3 linked regions of the Homo sapiens genome follow. The protein of the gene in region 2 interacts with the protein of the main gene of each other region in a biochemical or structural test. Each region holds a gene or a part of one and is shown on either strand. Other genes may lie near its edges.

Region 1 (6,876 bases), on a different chromosome or scaffold from region 2:
GGGTTTCACCATGTTGGCCAGGCTGGTCTCTAACTCCTGACCTCAGGTGATCTGCCTGCCTTGGCCTCCACCTTCCTGGTTCAAGCCATTCTCCTGCCTCAGCCTCCCGAGTAGCTGGGATTATAAGCGCCTGCCACCATGCCCGGGTAATTTTTTTGTATTTTTGTTAGAGATTTCGCCATGGGGTTTTGCCATGTTGGCCAGGCTGGTCTCAAACTCCTGACCTCAGGTGATCCACCCACCTTGGCCTCCCAAAGTGCTGGGATTACAGGCGTGAGCCACTGTGCCTGGCCAAGACAACTCTTTCCGTGGGGCTTGTATTAGTCTGTTTTCACACTGCTGATAAAGACATACTCAAGACTGGGCAATTAGCAAAAGAAAGAGGTTTCATTGGACTTACAGTTCCATATGGCTGGGGAAACCTCACAATCGTGGTGGAAGACGAGGAGCAAATCACATCTTACATGGAAGGCAGCAAGCAAAAAGAGCTTTTGCAGGAAAACTCCCCCTTATATAACCATCAGATCTAGTGAAACTTACTCATTATTATGAGAACAGCACGGGAAAGACCTGCCCCCATAATTCAGTTACCTCCCACCAGATCCCTCCCACAACACGTGGGAATTCAAGATGAAATTTGGGTAGGGACACAGCCAAACCATATCAGGGCTCTTGTTTTTTTTCTCTTGTTCCCTCCCCACCTTTTATTTAATGAGATGACAAAAACAGGGAAATAAGCAAAAAGCTTGCTGTACTGATTTTTGTCTTTTCACTTTGTGAGGATAGGGCTGTATACCTTAAAAAGCCTAACAGTAAATACTTAGATCTGTAAAGGGTGAACAATTGATACTGCATTTGAAAGTTCCTACATAGAGTTATTTTAGTATTGAGGGTGAGAATTTACACAGTTAGTGTCGCAGACTGATTTTGATGTGGCCTAAATCCCCAGGTAGCATTTTCTTTCTCAGTTTGTCCCTTCAGACTTTTCCAAAAAGAGGAAAAAGCAATTCTTACCAGCAGAGGGCACTAGCTTCCTTCTGGTAGAAGTTATAAGTTGAATCTACCTGTCTGAAGTGTTCATAGGGATTGCTCAGTAATTAATTTTTTTGTTTAGATGGGATGGAGGTGGATACCACACCAACAGTTGCTGGACAGTTTGAGGATGCAGATGTTGATCACTGAAAATGATTTATGCAAGTTTAAGGTGAGTAGTTCATTTTCTCCCTTGTCGCTGATCATGAAAATCATATGAAATGATTACTTTCTACTTTTTAAAATTCTTTCTTGAGACAGGGTCTTACTCTGTCACCCAGGCTAGAGTGCAGTGGCATGATCCTAGCTCACTACAGCCTTGAACTCAAGCAATCCACCTGCCTCACCCTCCCAAATAGCTGGGACTATAGGCACATGCTTACCACACCCAGCTTATTTTAAAATTTTACGTAGAGACAAGGTCTCACATGTTGCCCAGGCTGGTCTCTAACTCCTGGCCTCAAATGATTCTCCCTCCTCGGCATCCGAAAGTACTGGGATTACAGCTGTGAGCCACTGTATCTGGCCTATTTCTTTTTCCTTCTTTAAAAAAATTTTTCTTCTTTTAAACCTCAGATTGTTCCTGACAATTTATTTGCTACTCCATTATTCTGAGAAATATATTGTCCTTTGCCAGCCTAAGTATTTCAACTATATGTTAGATAATAACTGAAGGTCATGTTCATATCATACAGAGCTAGAACCAGTAATTGTAGTAGTCCTTTATAAGCTGTTGTTAAATTGTTGTCCCTGTCTCCCCACTACAACTTCCTCCTACCTTATAGCATTGTTTTCTTGAATACTGGCTATCCTCCAGTCTTTGAGATGCTCTCGCTAGCCTCCTTTTATTTTACTAAAGCATATAGTAATAGCATGGTAAGATTTATATGTTTTGACTTGACTCTGCTACCACTGTCAGTCATCCAGTTAAGTTATAAGATCCTTTGTTATTCCCTGCAATGATAAATATTTCAGAATTCCTTCTCTTTTCTTCTGATACAGATTTTAGTTCTGAACCTAGTTCTGTAATCATTGGCTTTTCTCCAGTTACAAGTTTTAATTCCTTTACCCCTGTTCTATTTCATTTCAGAAACCAGCCTTTTAAAGTTCCAGTTAGCTTCCAAGTTACTGCTATTGTGAAAACTGTATAACATTGCTTCTTATACTGACCATGAATTGTGATACTGGACCTGTGCTTTCTTCTCACATCCTGCCAGTGGAACTATCAGAAAATAACCTCTTAGAGTTCTATGATTTATATTTTCCCTTAAATACTTAATTTTAATTTCCACATTTACTTTTGTCAGTGGTAGCCATACAGTTTAAAATTAGCAATGTCTTCTCTGTTAAAATCATGTGTTCACATCACTGGAGCTCTGTTAACTTTGATTTTTAGCTCTCACAGTTCCAATTGTCAGTAACTTCACTGTTCTACTTCATGGGAAATCCTTTGATATCAACTTCAGTATTCTTTCCTTATTTCTCATCACATTATAGCATATTAATTTTTTCAGTTCAGTGATACTTGTTTTAGTAACTGTTTTATTGCAATTAGAAAACAGATTTTTGGGTCTTTGGGCTTTCACATATTTCTTTTGAAGAATAGACTATACAGAGAACATCAGCCACTCTATTATTAATCAGAATCATGAGAAACTCATTTGGTATGTCACTAACAGTTAAACAAATGGGATGTTACTGCAGTCCTTGGCAAGAATTCTTAGGATTCTTTTTAATGGTGAAATAGCCACAAACTTTTTAATGAGCTTTGTTTTCTGTTAATTTTATCCTAGAGCTCAGAGGCAGAGAATTATTTTATTCATAACGGTTTTTTTTCTTTTCTTTTTTTTTTTTCTTTTTGAGATGGAATCTCGCTCTGTCGCCCAAGCTGGAGTGCAGTGGTGTGATCTTGGCTCACTGCAACCTCTGTCTCCTGGGTTCAAGCGATTCTCCTGCTTCAGTCTCCCAAGTAGCTGGAACTACAGACGCGCGCCACCACGCCTGGCTAATTTTTGTATTTTTAGTAGAGAGAGGGTTTCACCATGTTGGCCAGGATGGTCTTGATCTTTTGACCTCGTGATCCGCCTGCCTCGGCCTCTCAAAGTGCTGGGATTACAGGCATGAGCCACTGCACCCTGTTTATAATGTATAAACATTATGTATAATGTTTATACATATTCTTCATCTGGATAATTGATCTGAATTCCGAACAATGTCTGTACATTTTTTTTTTTTTGACACGGGAGTCTCGCTCTGTTGCCTAGGCTGGTGTGCAGTGGCGCAACTTGGTTCATTGCAACCTCTGCCTCCCGGGTTCAAGCAATTCTCCTGCCTCAGCCTCCTGAATAGCTGGGATTACAGGTGCCCACCACCACACCCGGCTAATTTTTTTTTTTTTTTTTTTTTTTTTGAGATGGAGTTTCGCTCTTGTTGCCCAGGCTGGAGTGCAATGGTGCAATCGGCTCACCGAATCCTCCGCCCCCCCGGGTTCAAGTGATTCTCCTGCCTCATCCTCCCGAGTAGCTGGGATTACAGGCATGTGCCACCACGCCTGGCTAATTTTGTAATTTTAGTAGAGACAGTGTTTCTCCATGTTTGGTAAGGCTGGTCTTGAACTTCTGACCTCAGGTTATCCGCCTGCCTTGGCCTCCCAAAGTGCTGGGATTACAGGTGTGAGCCACCACACCTGGCTGTGTAAATTTTTAATCATTTAAAATTGTACATGCTTTAAAAGAATGAATAAGGAATAAATAATTAAGAGTAGTTTATGCAACTGTTAATAATTTCAGGATAATGGAACTAGGACTTCTCAGTGCATGAGGTGGGGTGGAGACGGCACGTTAATCGTGGAATCACAACTCTGCCACATACTTGTGTACACCTTTGGACAAGGCATATAACTTATTTAATCCTCACTTCCCCCATCTGTAAAATGGGGAGGATAATACCTACCTTGCAGGGTTGTTGCAGAGGCTAAGATAAAATGTACCTAAGTCCTCTGGCACTCGTGACTAGGCATTCAATAAGTAGTAGCTATTATTATTATCACTACTGTAAACACTGTAAACCTTTTGTTTTTCAGATTCTGCTCCTAAGTGTAGGAGAGAACTTGGTGCCTCTTCCACTCTGGAGTGAAGTTAATGAAAGTCTTTTTCCTTTTCCAAAACCCAACCTGAACCAGTTCTTTCTTGAGACAGACTATACTGAGACAACAAGTTGTCACCAGCAGAAGATAGATAATATGACCTTTATTAACTTGATGAATTAACTTAACCAAGAGGGTATTTGTAGTTTACTATTTACCCTAAAACTTTCTGTGTCTGGGTACCCTCTGAGTAGGCCTATAATTCCTACCTTGACTGTGTGCATCATTTGTAAGCTAGCAGATCTATGTGGTGAAAATGCACAGGAGCTTGGTAGACTGCGGGGGAAAGAGAGAGCTCCTTTCGCCATGTTTTACCAGTCTGCTGTTATAACCTCTTAGGTTGTATCCTTTAATTTCCAGCCTTTTAGGTTAGTTTCTGTAACAGAACAAGTGAGTCTGGGATGAAGTCCTCAAAGTACTTCAAATGGTAATTGTTTTGTTTTTGTAATAGCTTAACAAATAAACCTAGGTTTTCTATATTACTTTGCTCTCATTCTTGACTAAAACCATTAATGAGAAATGTTTTTTAAAAAATAATGCTGGCAAATATGAGAATTTTGTTGGCTTTATTTTTGTTTACTTGTTGAGAAGATGAACATGAAATTAATAAGAAAATATAGTTATAGCTTCTGGCAAGTATTTAGTAAGGCAAAGATTTAACACATTTCAGGGGATTTCTGCCACTTCCTTTTAGATCAGCAGTAATTTCTTATATTTATCAACTCTCAATTTTTAGTTTTCATAGATACCTGGGTATTATAAGGCTGATTTGTAATTACTGATTTATACTTGGACTTTTGAAATCATTATGTGTCCTTAAAAATAAGGTTATACAAGCTAACCTTCTTAACAGGATCACATGGCTAATTAGTGACTAAACTGATGTTTGGTACCACTCAGCCCAGTGTTCATTTCAGCACTGTCACTTGGTTTCCCTTATCTTGCAAGGTAGACTGAAAAAAAACGAATTTTCCTTTTTCTAACCAGACTCTCAGAATTTCTGAGTCTGTTAACAATAGGCAAGTAAAACAGCCACTTGAAATGGAAACTAAAATTTACTGAGACCTCTGTACTAGCCACTGTCCTGAGTTCTTTATTATGTATTATAATATTCTTAATTATCTTATGAGATACGCTTTTATCCCACTTTATAGTTGAGGAAACTGAGTTATAGAGAGAGGTAAAATAACTTGCTTAAGGTCATGTAGATAGTGAATTGTGATTTTTGAGCCTGTGCTTTAAAACATCATACAGCCTTACCACCTACCAGCAGCAGAAAGCATGCACACTCTCCCCACTGCTGCAGGGTTTCAGTGTTAACATTTCAATGGCCAGTACAAGAGCTTCCCCAGTTTCTCTGCTACCCATCTGAGCAACACCCATAATTCTATCCTAGAAGTTTGTCCATTCTTCAGTAATCAGTCAGGACATTCTCACAGGCTAATATTAGAAATTCCATTTGAGTTCCTTTTAAAAGGAACAAATTTATAATTGTGACTTTCCATGAACATAAATTGCTCTGATAGCAAAATGTCGAGAAGATTCAGAGTGTACTTGGTTTCTTGTTGGTGTTGCTGTGGTCAATGCAATATGCAAAAAGGCAGGAGACCAAAGCATGTGGGCACCTCTCTGGGCTTATTTCCTCATTAGACTAAGTGACTTTCAAAGATTGAGCTGTAACATTCACTAGATAGTTAGAACCGTAGCATTGAGAAAATAGAAGCTGAGAAAAAAGAGCAGGTCAGGCTTTTAAAAGATAAAATTTATAATGATCAGCCAGACAATATTTATTGATTTCATTTGAGCCTAATTTTAGGGTTGCTGGAATTGTTTTCTTTGTGTGTTCCTGATGTAGAGACACTTTAAAGGTACATAGACATTTCCCCTCCAAAATGTAAGTCATCTAAATGTTCCTAAAAGCTAGGGTTAATGGTTCTCTGTTCTAGGTTCTTCATTTAAAAAATGTATTCATTAAGATATGGTCCCAGCCGGACGTGGTGGCTCACACCTGTAATCCCAGCACTTTGGGAGGCTCAGGTGGGCAGATCACTTGAGGTCAGGAGTTTGAGACCAGCCTGGCCAATACGGTGAAAACCCATCTCTACTGAAAATACAAAAATTAGCCAGCCATGGTGGTGGGCACCTGTAATCCCAGCTACTCAGGAGGCTGAGGCACAAGAATCACTTGAACCCAGGAGGCAGAGGTTGCAGTGAGCTGAGGCCATAAGCTTGTTTAAATCTTTATAGGGGCTGGGCACGGTGGCTCATGCCTATAATCTCAGCACTTTGGGAGGCTGAGGTGGGTCGATCACCTGAGGTCAGGAGTTCCAGACTAGCCTGGCCAACATGGTCAAACCCTGTCTCTACAAAAATACAAAAAATTAGCTGGGCGTGGTGGTGGGGCACCTCTAATCCCAGCTACTTGGGAGGCTGAGGCAGGAGACTCCCTTGAACCTAGGAGGCAGATGTTGCAGTGAGCTGAGGTCACACCGTTGCATTCCAGCCTGGGCAACAAGAGCAAAACTCCATCTCAAAAATCAAAAAAGGTTATGTGGTTATGTATTTTTGAGGTTCTGTTAGGAGCTTCCTCAATATTGGTAAAGGTGAGAGATTATGTGCAGATGATCATAATATACAGGTTGAGTATTCCTAATCTGAAATCTGAAATTCCCCAAAATCTGAAACTTTTTTGAGTGCTA
Region 2 (7,014 bases):
AAGTGCTTTTTTTTTAATCGCAGTACTATTTTTATAAAGCAAGAACTATTCCATGCCTTGGAGAATGAATCATTTTTAGATTGTGACATAAATCTTGTAAAAACCTGTCAGTTATTTTCATCTATGAGAGAAGAGGAGCCCAAACTCTCGCCCACCTGTTCTTAACCAGAAAACCCACTGACTTTGAAAATCTCACCTCTGCCACCCATCTACTTGCATTCGTCTTTGGCAGACCTCAAGATAAATATGGGTTAATGCCTGCATGATGCCTCTGAATTCAGGAATTGCAGGGAAAACTCGGGGCTTTGTGCCAGTCTCTAAGTTGGCAACTTTGGCTGAACAAATGAGTAGTGGCTTCAGTGTCCTTGCGTACACATTCTGTGGATTGATTTAATGGAGTTGTCAGCATGATCATCATCTTCTAGCCAGGGGCATAGTTGCCAAGGCCATTTACCTCTTTCTAAGAAGAAACAGAATTATGTGTATATATGAGAGAAAGAAACAAGAATGCGTGAATGAGGATGAAGAAACATTTACCCCATGTACTCAAGACATTTCAGTTTTAAAAGTCACTTTCCTATTAGACTTCTTGAAAAACATTCTCACATAGCCTCTATGTAATCAGACAAATGACATTTGATTTCAAGAGCAGAGGGGTAAACATCCTCTGCTAATCGACAGGTAGCAGGTGTCAGAGGAGGCATAATATTAATAGCGCCACCTTCTGTTGGGTCAGTGGAGATGGGTGAGGAACAGCACAGAGCAGCAGGGATCATCACATGCAGCCAAACTTGGCCTCTGAAGGGGGAAGGTAGTGGGAATAGGTGGTGAGAGAACTCACATTTTTCTCTTGTCCTGGTTTTATATTTCGGAGGGAAAGGATTATTTGGCCCCATTAAGAATTAAGAGGCTGGGTGCGGTGGCTCACGTCTGTAATCCCAGCACCTTGGGAGGCCCAGGCAGGCAGATCACCTGAGGTCGGGAGTTCGAGACCAGCGTGACCAACGTGGAGAAACCCCCGTCTCTACTAAAAATACAAAAAATTAGCTGGGCATGGTGGTGCATGCCTGTGATTCCAGCTACTTGGGAGGTTGAGGCAGGAGAATCATTTGAACTCAGGAGGCGGAAGTTGCGGTGAGCCAAGATTGTGCCATTGCACTCCAGCCTGGGCAACGAGCGAAACTACATCTCAAAAAAAAAAAAAAAAGACATGGCTGGGCATGGTGGCTCACACCTGTAATCCCAGCACTTTGGGGGGCTGAGGCAGGTAGATCACTTCAGGCCAGGAGTCCAAGACCAGCACGTCCAACATGGCAAAACCCAGTCTGTACTAAAAATAGAAAAATTAGCTGGGCGTGGTGGCGTGTGCCTGCAATACCAGCTACTCAGAAGGCTGAAGCAGGATAATTGCTTGAACCTGGTAGGTGGAGGTTGCAGTGAGCTGAAATCATGCCACTGCACTCCAGCCTGGGTGACAGAGCAAAACTGCCTTAAAAAAAAAAATTAAGAGACAGCCCGTGTCCCAGTCCCTCGTCTTGCACTGCAGAATTTACATCTAAGAAGAAAATGTATTTTTGAAAGGGTGATGGCTGGCCTCATCCCTCACTAATTGACAACCCATCTGTCGATGCCATTTTTTCCCTTCCTGTTCTCACTCCACAGAAAGAGGAGATACGGTTCTTGTTTGGTAATTGCTAAAATCTCTTTGAGGAAAGAAATAAAGATGTCAACTCCTTTGGCCTGCTTTTTCATTTATTTTTCTTAGACAAATAGACTATATGAAATCTAACTTTTGTGTATATCTCTGGGTAGCCTAGGATACACATGCCCTCATCATAGCAGTGGTTCACAAACTTCTGGATGCAAAAAAAAAAATTACTTGGAATGCTTGTTTAAAATGCACATTTTTGGCTCCTCCCAGCCCCCAGAAAGGTTTGAAGCTCAACAATCTTTTTTTTTTTTTTTTTTTTTTTTGAGATGGAGTCTCGCTCTGTCAGCTCACTGCAACCTCTGCCTCTCAGGTTCAAGTGATTCTCCTGCCTTAGCCTCCTGAGTAGCTGGGACTACAGACACGCACCACCATGCCTGGCTTAATTTTTGTATTTTTAGTAGAGACGGGGGTTTTCACTACATTGGCCAGGCTGGTCTCGAACTGCTGACCTCGTGATCCGCCCGCTTCAGCCTCCCAAAGTGCTGGGATTACAGGTGTGAGCCATCACGCCCAGCCAGCAATCTGATTTTTAGCCCCAAAGGCTTCTGATATGTGTGGTTGTCAATATACAGCAGCTTCGGCAGCAAGGCCCTCGGTATACTGTGATAGGCTGGGTGGGAAGGAAGTAAGATAATGTAGCTGTTGATTGGCAATTTTAACTTAATGGTAAGTTGACAGCATTTTATATCAAAATACAAGTAGGCATTAGAGTACAAATTTTCAAGAAAACCACCCAGAGAAACGTGCTTTCTGTGGGTCTTAAATGACACTATAAAGGCTATCACTCAGTTTTGCCATATGATGTGGGGATGAGCGCTCATTTGTTGAATTGCCAGCAATTCTGCAGCTTTGAGTTTTTTATTCAGGCAGGGGGTTTTGAACAAAGTGATAAGCTGGGTTCAAAACCTGTGCCATAAAGAAACCTGTACTGCTACCAATTAGAAGCCACTGTTTGATGGTTTTTGTTTTTTTTTTTTTTTTGAGATGGAGTCTCCCTCTGTCACCCCAGCTGGAGTGCAGTGGCGCGATCTCAGCTCACTGCAACCTCCGCCCCTCCAGGTTTAAGCAATTCTCTGCCTCAGCCTCCAGCGTAGCTGGGATTACAGGCGCGTGCCACCACGCCCGGCTAATTTTTTGTATTTTTAGTAGAGACGGGGTTTCACCATCTTGGCCAGGCTGGTCTTGAACTCCTGACCTCGTGATCCACCCGCCTCGGCCTCCCAAAGTGCTGGGATTACAGGCGTGAGCCACCGCGCCCGGCCTGCTTGATGGTTTTGTCTTCGCTGTAGTATGCATTCATCCCAAGGTATATTTCAGAGTTGTATATTAATTTTCATCTTGCTCTCTAAGGTACTCTCCAGTATTCTCTTGGACTTCCTAAGTCTTAAGGAAACTGAAATGTACACAAAGCAACTAGTACAGAGAATACTAGTTGATGGCAGTTTGAGAATGTGGTGACGGGCAAGTGATGTGTGGCCTGTAGGTGAGTGGAAACATTTTGGCTCTGCTGGATGAGAAGGTTATATCTGGGCCTTCCGCGAAGAGTAGACTGTCATTTTAAAATCAACCAAAAAATATTTTGCCGAACTGAGACTATAAAGTAGCAAGTGGTATGATCAGGTCTTGGGAATTTTCCATAGTTTCCTCCAAGAGCTGGATCTTCGTTTCTTCCAATTGGTTAGCAATGCTTAGAAAGACAGTGATATAATGAATTTTCTTTGATACTAAGCACAAATTTGTTTATGCACAGGGTATAGGAAATGGAGGACAGACACCCAGTATTGGCTGACATGCATCTATTATGAGCTCTGTAGGCAGTATCTCTCCATCCTGAGGTCAGTTCTATAAGGTAGGTGCTATTTATATCATATTTCAGACGAGAAACACGCTAAATACTTTGAGCCCAGATAGGCTATTCTTCCCACCCTATCAGTAGTACTCAGCATGGAAGCAAACTGAGACATTCATTGCCTTCCTCCAGACGCTTCCTGCCAGCTCAAGCTAGGATGCGATCCCGAGCTCATTCCCGGGGAACCCAGAGTATTAACAAACACCCTAAGTGATAATGATACAGACGGGGAAACTGCGCTGGAGCAGGTCAAGCAGCAGTCGACAGCGTTAACCTGTCAGCTATGGGAGGAGGCGGTGCGAGGCGCGGGCTGGTCGGAGCCGCGTACCACGCCCCCCGGCCCGGGTGGAACGAGGACAGGTGCTGCCCTCCCGCGGCCGCTTCGGCGCAGTGCAACCCCGCGCCGCGGCTGCGCAGTGCCGCCCTCTGGCGGCTTCGTTCCTTCTTCCCATCGGCCTCGGCTTGCGGGCCTTTCAAACATGGAGGAGCGGGAGCGGGGGGCGAGGTCGGCTGGCGCCGGGAGCCCCGCGCGCCCGCCCAGCCCGCGGCTGGATGTCAGCTCTGACAGCTTCGACCCGCTGCTGGCCCTGTACGCGCCCCGCCTGCCTCCCATTCCCTACCCCAATGCCCCCTGCTTCAACAACGTGGCGGAGTACGAGAGCTTCCTCAGGACCGGAGTCCGGGGCGGCGGGCGCGGGCGCGGGCGGGCTCGGGGCGCGGCCGCGGGCTCTGGGGTTCCCGCCGCACCCGGGCCCTCGGGCAGGACTCGTCGCCGCCCGGACGCGCCCGCCCCGGACCCCGAGCGCATCCAGCGCCTCCGCCGTCTCATGGTGGCCAAAGAGGAAGGGGACGGGGCCGCAGGAGCGGGCCGGAGGGGTCCGGGTCGGAGCAGGAAGGCGCCACGCAACGTGCTCACGCGAATGCCCTGTGAGTCCGCGGGCCGGGCGGGAAGCGGGGCAGCCGCCGTCCGGAAGCTGGCTGCCGAGGGGGCGTCTGCGGGGCGGCGGTGGCCGGGCGCGGGTCTGCACGTATTGCGGGAGCGCCTTGGTGAAAATTTGCGGGGATCATCAGTGACTATGGGGTGGATCTGCTTGAGTAATGTGGGTAATGAGGGCGTGGGGAGGGTCACCCTGAGTAAGAAAAGGGGCTGTAGGAGCAACAGAGGGAGAGTGGTAAGGCTGTAGTGGTCATAAGAAGCCGTGGGAAAGGTCTTCAGCGGTAATCGGGGCCCATGGAAGGGTCACAGAGGTGATGAGCCTGCCGAGAGGGTCTACAGGATTGATGGAGGACCTGGAGAGGTGGCGGGGCTACAGAGTTTGGGGGACATCATAGGGACGTCTACAGAGGTGATGAGAGGTCTTAGAGACCACAGTGAGAGGTAAGGTGGGGCGGAAAACGGGAGACGTGGGGGAGCGCACAGCCAATATTAGGGGAAGGAGAGTATTTGGTCAGTGGGATTTGAGGATGATCGGATGGAGTGTGGGGAGATTTGTTCAGATAGCACAGGCGCATAATCCCATAACCCCTGTACATTGACAGCTCCTTCTCGAGTGCGATAAGCAGAAGGGCTGCAGAGTCTTGATACACATATGTTCACATTACTAAGTCACAAGTGCTGAAATGCAGCAGGCACAGAATGCCACTAAAACACAGACGCTGTTTTACAGCCACTCTGCCTGGCTGGGTGCAGGACTGTGTCTGTCAGGCTCATATTACCATATGTGCAGGTTATTTTAAGTTCTAAAGGTGTAAATGGCACAAGGGAATTTCTTGGAGCCTCCTCATAGATCCTTAGAGTAAAGCTGTAAACAGCAGAGGCTCTAATGTGTGAGTTAGGTCTTGTATAAATGGAATAAAAACAGCCTAAGGTTATCTCTTTTGTCATCTGGCAAGCAGTTCTGACATCTGCCCTGTGAACACAATGACCTACTTAGCCATTCAAAGCATCTGTATCCTGATAATTAAATTGTTACCTTATTAAGTCACTGTCTTTTGGATGGAGAGGTGTGCCAAGCAAGGGACTGTTTTGCTTCATTCCTAGAAATTTGTTTATTAAGAGAGAACATCCTGAAACGCTCTGTGCTGTTCCGTGTGCCTTCGTTGGATGTCTTACCATGCCACAGCATCCCTGCCCAAGCTAGGATTTACCCCGGCCTGCTTGCCTGGCTGTAACACAAAGACAGTATGCTTGTTCCCAAAATGAGAGCAGTTTGGGGGACCTTAATTTGCCTATGCAATTTGCCACCATTAGGTAGTTGAAATGCACTCCAAGTCTCATTGCAACATTTATTTCTATTTTACCAGTTATTGCTTTGCTACCAAGATTGTCAAGGGAAAGGAATATTCCTGTGTATTGCTATGTGGTGGGTGGTTTTAGCTTTCCCTATAGAGCACTTTACTGTAATGGTATGACAGTGTGTGAAGACCAGCTTTGTCAACTTCTTATGATTAAGTATATATCCCTGGAATCAAGATCTCAGAGAATATGCCCTACATACTGAAAATTTTCACCATGGCACTGCAGACAGTTGAGTGTACATGAGAGAAAGGCATTGACGTCGCACAGAGTTGATGACCTTCAGAAAGCAAGAAAACAACAGAAACATGGGTGAGGATTGGATTCATTCAAGAAAGAGTTCCTACTTGAGGGTGAAGGGTGGGAGGAGGGTGAGAATCACAAAACTACCTATTGGGTACTGTGATCACTACCTGGGTGACAAAATAATTTGTGCACCAAACCCCAGTGACACACGATTTACACCTGCAACAAACCTTTCGTGTACCTCCTGATCCAAAAACAAAAGTTGGAAGGGGGGAAAAAAAAGAACTAGGTATGTTTTATATGTATGCCACAGTTTTAATTTAAAAAAATATATGCCTACTCTAAACTCTGATTGGATACAGTTGCTCAGGAAAATCAAAATATAGATACCAGTAAGATAATACTATTTGTGGACATATACAAATGCTTTCTGGAAAAAAATGCCTATGCATTTGAGAATGCATAATCCTTTGCAAAATATTCACATAAAATGTAAGTTCCATCAGGCTGTAACAGCAAGAAGAAGCTTTGTTAGGTCATATCATCAGTGAAACATAATGAAGAATACATGAGGAGCTACATTTTGTCGCTGACTTTAAAATGATGTATTTCATCAATTCAGATCCAAGTTACCCATCCAAATTCACAGAGAGGACAGTGTGGAATGTTTATGAAAAAACAAGGAGTGCAAAATTAAGTGTAATGGTGTTTTAACTGTAAAATATTTCACTTTGTATCTCTGTCATAGAATCTCTTTGAATTCCCTTGTGGAGCAGTTGTATTCTTTTCCTTGCAGTAATAAAATTTTAAAAGTAGCCAGGCACAGTGGCTCACACCTGTAATCCCAGCACTTTGGGAGGCCGAGGCGGGCAGAACACTTGAGGCCAGGAGTTCAAGACCAGCCTGGCCAAC
Region 3 (7,111 bases), on a different chromosome or scaffold from region 2:
AGGGAGACTCTGTTTTCTAGGCTGGAGTGCAGTGGTGTGATCTTGGCTTGTGGAACCTCCATCTCCTGGGCTCAAGTGATCCTCCTACCTCAGCCTCCCGAGTAGCTGGGACTACAGGTGTGCACTACCACGCCCAGCTAATCTTTTTGTGTTTTTGGTAGAGATGGGGGTTTTACCATGTTGCCCAGGCTCATCTCAAACTCCTGAGCTCAAGCAGTCTGCCCGCCTCAGCCTCTCAAAGTGCTGGAATTACAGGCATGAGCCACCATGCCCCACCAATCGAAACTCCTTGAAATTTAATCCCTAATGTAGCTGTATTAAGAGGTGGGGCCTTTTTTTTTTTTTTTTTGAGATGGAGTCTCACTCTGTCACCCAGGCTGGAGTGCAGTGGCGCAATCCTGGCTCACTGCAAGCTCTGCTTCCCAGGTTCATGCCATTCTCCTGCCTCAGCCTCCCGAGTAGCTGGGACTACAGGTGCCCGCCACCATGCCCAGCTAATTTTTTTTTTTTTTTTTGCATTTTTAGTAGAGGCGGGGTTTCACTGTGTTAGCCAGGATGGTGTCGATCTCCTGACCTCATGATCCGCCTGCCTTGGCCTCCCAAAGTGCTGGGATTACAGGTTTGAGCCACTGCGCCCGGCCAAGGTGGGGCCTTTAAGAGATGATTAGGTCATGAAGGCTCTGCCTGTGTGAGTGAATTCATTTATTCATGGAATAATGGGTTATCATGAGAGTGGGTCTGTTGTAAAAGCCAGCTTGACATTGCTTCAGTTCCCTCACCATGTTATGCGTTGTGCCATTTTAGGGCTCTGTAGAGTCTCCACCAGCAGGACGACCCTCACCAGAGGCAGTCTGTTGGCCTTGGACTTCCCAGCCTCGAGAACTATAGGAAACAAATTTCTTTTCTTTATAAATTACCCAGTTATAGCAACAGAAGATGGACTAATACACTGTGTAACTTGGAGAAAGTGACTATTTGGGCCTTGATTTTGTTTTCTATAAGTTGGGGATAATCCTGCCTCAAAGAGGAGTCAGGCAGTTCAGTGACTCACTGCACCTAAAGCATTGAACCATTGCCGGCATGCAGAAAGCTGTTGGCCAAAGAAGGGCTTTTGCAGTCAGATGCCTGGAGGGTTGGGATGGGCAGTGTAAGCCAGAGTGGAATTGCCCCTTTGTCGAGCTCTTCCTGTGTGCTAAGTACTATGCAGTCACCTCCCAGCAGTATTTCAGTTGCTTCTTGTAGCAGCCCTGATGAGATGGGACTCGTTGGTCCCATTTCACTAGGGGAGCAGGAATTGGGGTCACAAGAGACATGCAGCTTACTTGCCAATAGTCACTCATAAAGGGAAGGTAATAGGGCCATACCTCAGACCCAAACTAAAGAGAGGTGGTTTTCATTCTTTCTTAAAATGTGCCTGTGCCCACACTGATGGAGATTTGGAAGAGACACATCAGTCATGGTTTCACCTAGAGATGGGGTGTGTGGGGGCAGGCTTTCACGTTTTAATGTTGGTACTTCTCAAGTATTTGAATTTTTATCCTAAACATCCATTAACTGTCCAGGTACAGTGGCTCATGCCTGTAATCCCAACACTTCAGGAGGCAGGGGCAGGAGAATCACTTGAGGCCAAGAGTTCGAGACCAGCCTGGGCAACATGGCAAGACTCCTACTCTACCAAAAAAAAAAAAAATTAGCTGGGTCTGGTGGCACAAGCCTGTAGTCCTAGCTACTTGGAAGCTGAGGCAGGAGGATTGCTTGAGCCCAGGAGGTGGAGGCTATGATCGTGGCACTGCACTCCAGCCTGGGCAACAGAGTGAGACACTCTCTCTCTCTCTCGCTCGCTCTCTCTCTCTGTATATATAATATATATAATTTATGGATTACCAGATTTATAAATTACCATAACTTACAAACGACAGAAGGAAACCAATTCCTTATAGTGAAAACTGGCAAATAAAAGGAGAGTCAAGCATTTACCCTACCTGTCCTATACGAACTCTACCGCTGACTAGCCAAATAGTAGAAAATTTTTTTTTTTTTTTTTGAGACAGGGTCTCACTGTCCCCCAGGGTGGAGTGCAGTGGTGCGATCACAGCTCACTGTAGCCTCGACCTCCTTGGGCTCCTGTGATACTCTCACCTCAGCCTCCTGAGTAGCTGGGACTACAGGTGCATATATAAATTATAAATTATAATTTTATAAATTTATAAATTTATAAATTATATATATAATTATATATAAAATAAAATTTAATATATACATGCACACACACATAAATAATAATAAACACTTATTAACTAGGAAAGTCTTAAAATGAAAGATGGCATCACTAAAAGTTGGACAACCAGATAGGAGCCTTGGGTAACCATGTGTTACCCAAGCGGACCTGGTACCTAAAGCGGACCTGGTACCACCTGTGAGTGGGTCTTTCCCCCAGAAGCTGTATTGACTCCAGTCAGGCCTCTGCTCTCCTGACCAGCTCACAGGAAATGCGTGGCCAGGGAGCAGCCAGGTGACACTGCATGGAAGCAGCTTGCCACACTCAGAACATGGGACCTCAAATCAGGAGCATGGAGGATGTAGAAGGCACAGCGGTACAGCTGTAGATTTCAAAACCTCAGAACCACATCAGTTACAGGGTATGGGCCCCCTGGATTCTGATTGAGACGAGCTAGCTATAAAGACACACCACTGAGATGTCAGACTAATCTGTATACAGATTTTGAATGTGGTCTAGGTGTTCAGTGATTAAGGAGTTACTGTTCATACTGAAGTATTCACAGGTGAAATCAGATGACCCCTGGGTGATGAGTTCATGGGTGTTAATTATATACATCTCTACTTGTATGTATGTTTGAAAGTTTACAAAATAAGTCTTGAATGAACACTTAAAGCAAAAGCGTAAAATAGATTTTTAGGATCAGGCAGACCTGGGTTCAGTCCCACCTGTGTTAACTTCGGTTGACATCCTGTCCCCTGGTCAAAGTCAAGGTCCTTTTCTTTGCCTACAAAATACAGGGGTTTCCAGTCTCTTACATCTCAAGATTCTTGTGAGGCTGAGGATGGGATGGTTTTTGCCAAAGCCCTGGCAGATTGAGGGCTGGGAGTGCCCTGAGTGAGCTGTTGGGCTCCTCCCTGACCCCAGCCTCTGAGTGACCAATAGTGTACTGTGTTTCAGGAATTTGTGACCCTCAAGGATGTCGGCATGGACTTCACCTTGGGAGACTGGGAGCAGCTCGGGCTGGAACAGGGGGACACGTTCTGGGACACAGCGTTGGACAATTGCCAGGACCTCTTCCTGCTGGGTGAGTGTTGCCTGTCCCCAGGGGCCTACTCACTGCCCTGCTTGGTGATCACCCATGCTCTCTACCACCCACAGGGTGAAGTCCTGGCTCCTGGGCTCCTCAGAATCAGCATGACCTAGCCCAGCAGTTCTCAGCTGGCCGAGGAGACATTGGCAATGTGTGGAGACATTTTTGATTGTTACTCCTTGGGCCAGCGCAGCGTGCCGCTAGCATCTAGCTGGTGGAACCAAGGGAGGCTGCCACACATCCTACAGTGCACAGCACAGCCCCACAACCAAGGATTGGCCCACGCCAGTGTCAGTAGTGCTAAGCCTGGGAAACCCTGCTCTGGCCCCTATCTGCCTCCCCAGCCTTGTCTTCACCACTTTCCTACTTGTAGTCAGTCATTCTTCAAGCTGATACTTCAAAGTCTTCCAGTTGCCCTCCCCTCTGCCTAAGCGGCTCTCAGGGCTTACATTTTTAAAGTTTAACCTGGGACCCTGTTAGAACTCCATACCTCCTCTCCTACTCATCTTGTCTGTCGCTCCCTCACGTTCTAACTACCATTGTATCATTCAGAGCGGGAGCTGTGTGAGGACAGGGCGTGTCCCCAGTGTTTGGAACGAACAGTACCTGCTCTAGGGCCCAGCAGACAGCTCTAAACTAATGAATGATTGAGTAGCAGCTCTTAGGACTTGCTTGTTCAATCCTCCAGTCACCCCATGAAGAAGCTGGGTTGTCCCTCTTTTGCCGATTGGTCTGAAACTGAGGTTAAAAGAGTGGCAGTCACCTTCCCAGCTGTGTCAGTGTCCCCAGGAGCACCCACAGATTCAGTGATTGGCTAGGATTCCCAGGACTCATCCTGTAGTCAGACTCATGGCTATGACTTACTACAGTGAAAAGATTCAGAGCACAGTCAGCAAAGGGAGGAGGTACATGGGGCAAAGTCCAAGGAAGCCAGGCACAAGCTTCCAGAATTCTCTCAGGGGAGTCACATGGGACATGCTTAATTCCCCCAGCAATACTGTAGAATGTGATATCGCGTGTGAAATGCTGTCCACCAGGGAAGCTCATCAGAGACTCAGTGCCAGGGTTTTTACTGGGGGCTGGTCATGTGGGCTCCTCTGCCTGGCACATTCCAAAATTCCAGCCCCCCAGAAGGAAAGCAGGTGTAAGCCACCGTGTTTGCACAGTTTAGGTCCAGGGAGCGTGTCTCTTCAGTTCTGGAGACACGGGGTACCCCCCTGAAATCCAGCCTTGCCAGCAGGCTTTTCCCAGGAGAGCAGCCAGCCTGCTGTGTCGCCCTCTTCTGCACACCAGTGTCACACAGTGAGACAGCAGCAGGGCCCAGACTCCAGCTAAGGTCTGTGCAGCTCCAAGGCCATATCACCCCAGCTCCCCATCAGTGTCACCTGATTAACTCATTTTCCCTCTCTGTTGCCTCAGTTCTTTCTTTTTGAAGAACCAGAAAAATAATTTACTCCAAAAGATGAAAGAAGTAAAAGATAACACACGGTGGAAACTATCATTTGATAGAATCTCATCACATTGGGGCAGACTTTCTCCAGACTGGCCAGTGTGTGCTAAGAAGCATCTCGTGGGAGGTCCTACCTCAGTGTCTTTTTGAATTTTTAAACTACAGCCCACAGTAAGAAGTGTGTTTACCTCGACTGCCCCTTCACCCATTTGTGTGAATGTATGAGTAGTGTATCCGTTTCCTATTGCTGCTGTTACACATACCACAAACACAGTGGCTTCCACCAGCACACTTTTATTATGTTACAGTCCTGGAGGCCAGGAGTTCCAAATGCATGTGGCTGGGCTGGAGGCGAGGTGTTGGCAGGGCCACCATGTTCCTTCTGGAGGCTCCAGCACGTAGATAGTCCTTCCTGGCCCGTTGCCAGCTTCTGGAGGTCACCTGTATTGCTTGACTCATGGCTTCTCAGTCTTCAAAGACAGCAGTGGCGTTTTCTCCGCTGTGGCCTGTATCCCTCCTGGATGGTGACTCTGTTCCCTTCCTTGGGGAAGCTTGTGGAGGGTATGGCTCAGGACTGCTTGGGCTCTGGGACCCTGACATTTTCTGTCCCTGGCCCATGGAGGCCTCAGGCAATGTGTGGCCCATGGGTCAGTGAATAAATCATGAATGGCTAAGGAAGTACGTGCCTCTCCACCTGGCAGATCCTGCCCATTAAAGAGCTGTCACAAGTCCTTTGTATCCCCAGCCCCAGCTGTCACAGCTTTGATCACCCTGGATTGTGATTGTTTGGCTCCCTCTCCATCACTGGACTGGGAACCCTACAGGACAGGCATCCCCAGAGTCGCCCAGTGCAGCACCTCGTCCACACACAGGAGCCACGTGCAGGATAAAGCATAGAAAAGTCAGGAGAGCCAGGAGGTTCTCACTGAGTGTCTGGATGGTCCTCCATGTCCTGGTTGGGTGACAATGCTTTTCTCTCCCTGCAGACCCCCCAAGACCCAACCTGACCTCCCACCCAGATGGCAGTGAAGATCTGGAGCCTCTGGCAGGAGGAAGCCCAGAAGCAACAAGCCCTGGTGAGTGGATGGAGAGGGGCCCCTTGTGTACCTTCTGTCTTCCAGACCTCCATCCTGAGGCTGCAGCCAGCTTTCCCACAGGTCTACCGAGACATTACAACGCTCAGCTTCAGGACTTCACTCTGCTTCTCGCTGGCTTCCATCCCCTTGTCCTGGGAGCTGGGGGGATCAGGACATTTTTATAGACCCTCACTCTGGGGTCTCTCTACCTTGCCCTTCAGCACAGGGTTATCCTGGTGCCTCTCCACAGCTCCTCCTCTTTCCTTCCAGACTCAACAAGGGTACGCCCTCCACTCTCTCAGTTGGTCTCTCTACTTTCCTGCCTTGTGCTCCCTGAGTGTGTTGACCCTCATTCTACTTCTTTTACCTCCTTTCCTTCAGGCCCATTTTTCCTTCCTATCCCTGGGGCATAGCAGATGGCCACATCAGGGAGTAACTTAAGCCCAGGCCTGAATGCTGCCAAGAGCATCTGCCCTGCCATCTCCCAAGCCGGGGTTCCTCCAGGTGGATCAGGTTAGGTGGTGAGGATTCCTGGGGTATTACCCATGGTAGAGACGTCCCCAGCATGAGAAGCAGGGCCCTGAACCAGAGACCACAGGAATCTCAGGCTGTACCCCATCCAGTCAGTCTGCAGCTCCCTTCTTGGCTCACCACGCTCAGGCTCGTGTACATGAGGCCTCTGCAGCCTCCTCTTCAGCACATCAGTGTTCCTCATAGGTGACTAACTCATGCACAGGCTCTCACAACTTCTGCTTTCTGTTTCTGTCACCTCAGCATATTGGCTGTTTCCAAACATAGGTAGCCATGCCTTTACTAACAAATATACCTCCATATCCTCTAGTAGTGACACTTGAGTTGCATAGTTACCACATAAGCGTCTTTCCCCTTTAACAGCATGCCGCTCTTGGAAGCAGGGCTTAGCTGATTCACCCTGTATTCCCAGCTCCTGACATCATGCTTGGCATATAAGGGGTGCCTATTACATGTCTGTTGGTGCATTTGAGGCCGAGGGAACAACATGAGCACAAGTGTGGTGAGGAGAGTGAGCTGGATATCTGTGGGAGAGATGAGCAGAGGCAAAGGTGACAATTCAGAACAAGATGTGGTTTCAGAAGGCTTTCATTTGCAAGTTTTAATTCCAGGCAGAGAGACTTTAAGCAGTCTCATAGATACTCAGATGGTGAGCCAAGAACTGCACAAGGGACAGGCTGGAAAAGGTATGATGATGGAGGAGAGGAGAGATGGGGAGACTGGAGGCATACAGCAGAGCAGTG

What was found.
Region 1: the proteins of LSM11 (region 2) and CLNS1A form a complex in vitro, tested with the Homo sapiens proteins (one study listed by BioGRID).
Region 3: the proteins of LSM11 (region 2) and ZNF473 form a complex in vitro, tested with the Homo sapiens proteins (one study listed by BioGRID).

What each region holds. Positions count from the first base shown.
Region 1 is NC_000011.10:77,613,934-77,620,809, reverse strand, and holds the end of CLNS1A (methylosome subunit pICln), read left to right. Parts: intron 1-1,114; coding exon 1,115-1,182; 3' UTR 1,183-1,204; intron 1,205-2,122; exon of another isoform or gene 2,123-2,270; intron 2,271-4,114; 3' UTR 4,115-6,280; downstream 6,281-6,876. UniProt on the Homo sapiens protein: Involved in both the assembly of spliceosomal snRNPs and the methylation of Sm proteins.
Region 2 is NC_000005.10:157,739,712-157,746,725, forward strand, and holds the start of LSM11 (U7 snRNA-associated Sm-like protein LSm11), read left to right. Parts: upstream 1-4,000; 5' UTR 4,001-4,039; coding exon 4,040-4,487; intron 4,488-7,014. UniProt on the Homo sapiens protein: Component of the U7 snRNP complex that is involved in the histone 3'-end pre-mRNA processing. Increases U7 snRNA levels but not histone 3'-end pre-mRNA processing activity, when overexpressed. Required for cell cycle progression from G1 to S phases.
Region 3 is NC_000019.10:50,035,983-50,043,093, forward strand, and holds part of ZNF473 (zinc finger protein 473), read left to right. Parts: intron 1-3,178; coding exon 3,179-3,305; intron 3,306-5,039; exon of another isoform or gene 5,040-5,747; coding exon 5,748-5,837; exon of another isoform or gene 5,838-6,892; intron 6,893-7,111. UniProt on the Homo sapiens protein: Involved in histone 3'-end pre-mRNA processing by associating with U7 snRNP and interacting with SLBP/pre-mRNA complex. Increases histone 3'-end pre-mRNA processing but has no effect on U7 snRNP levels, when overexpressed.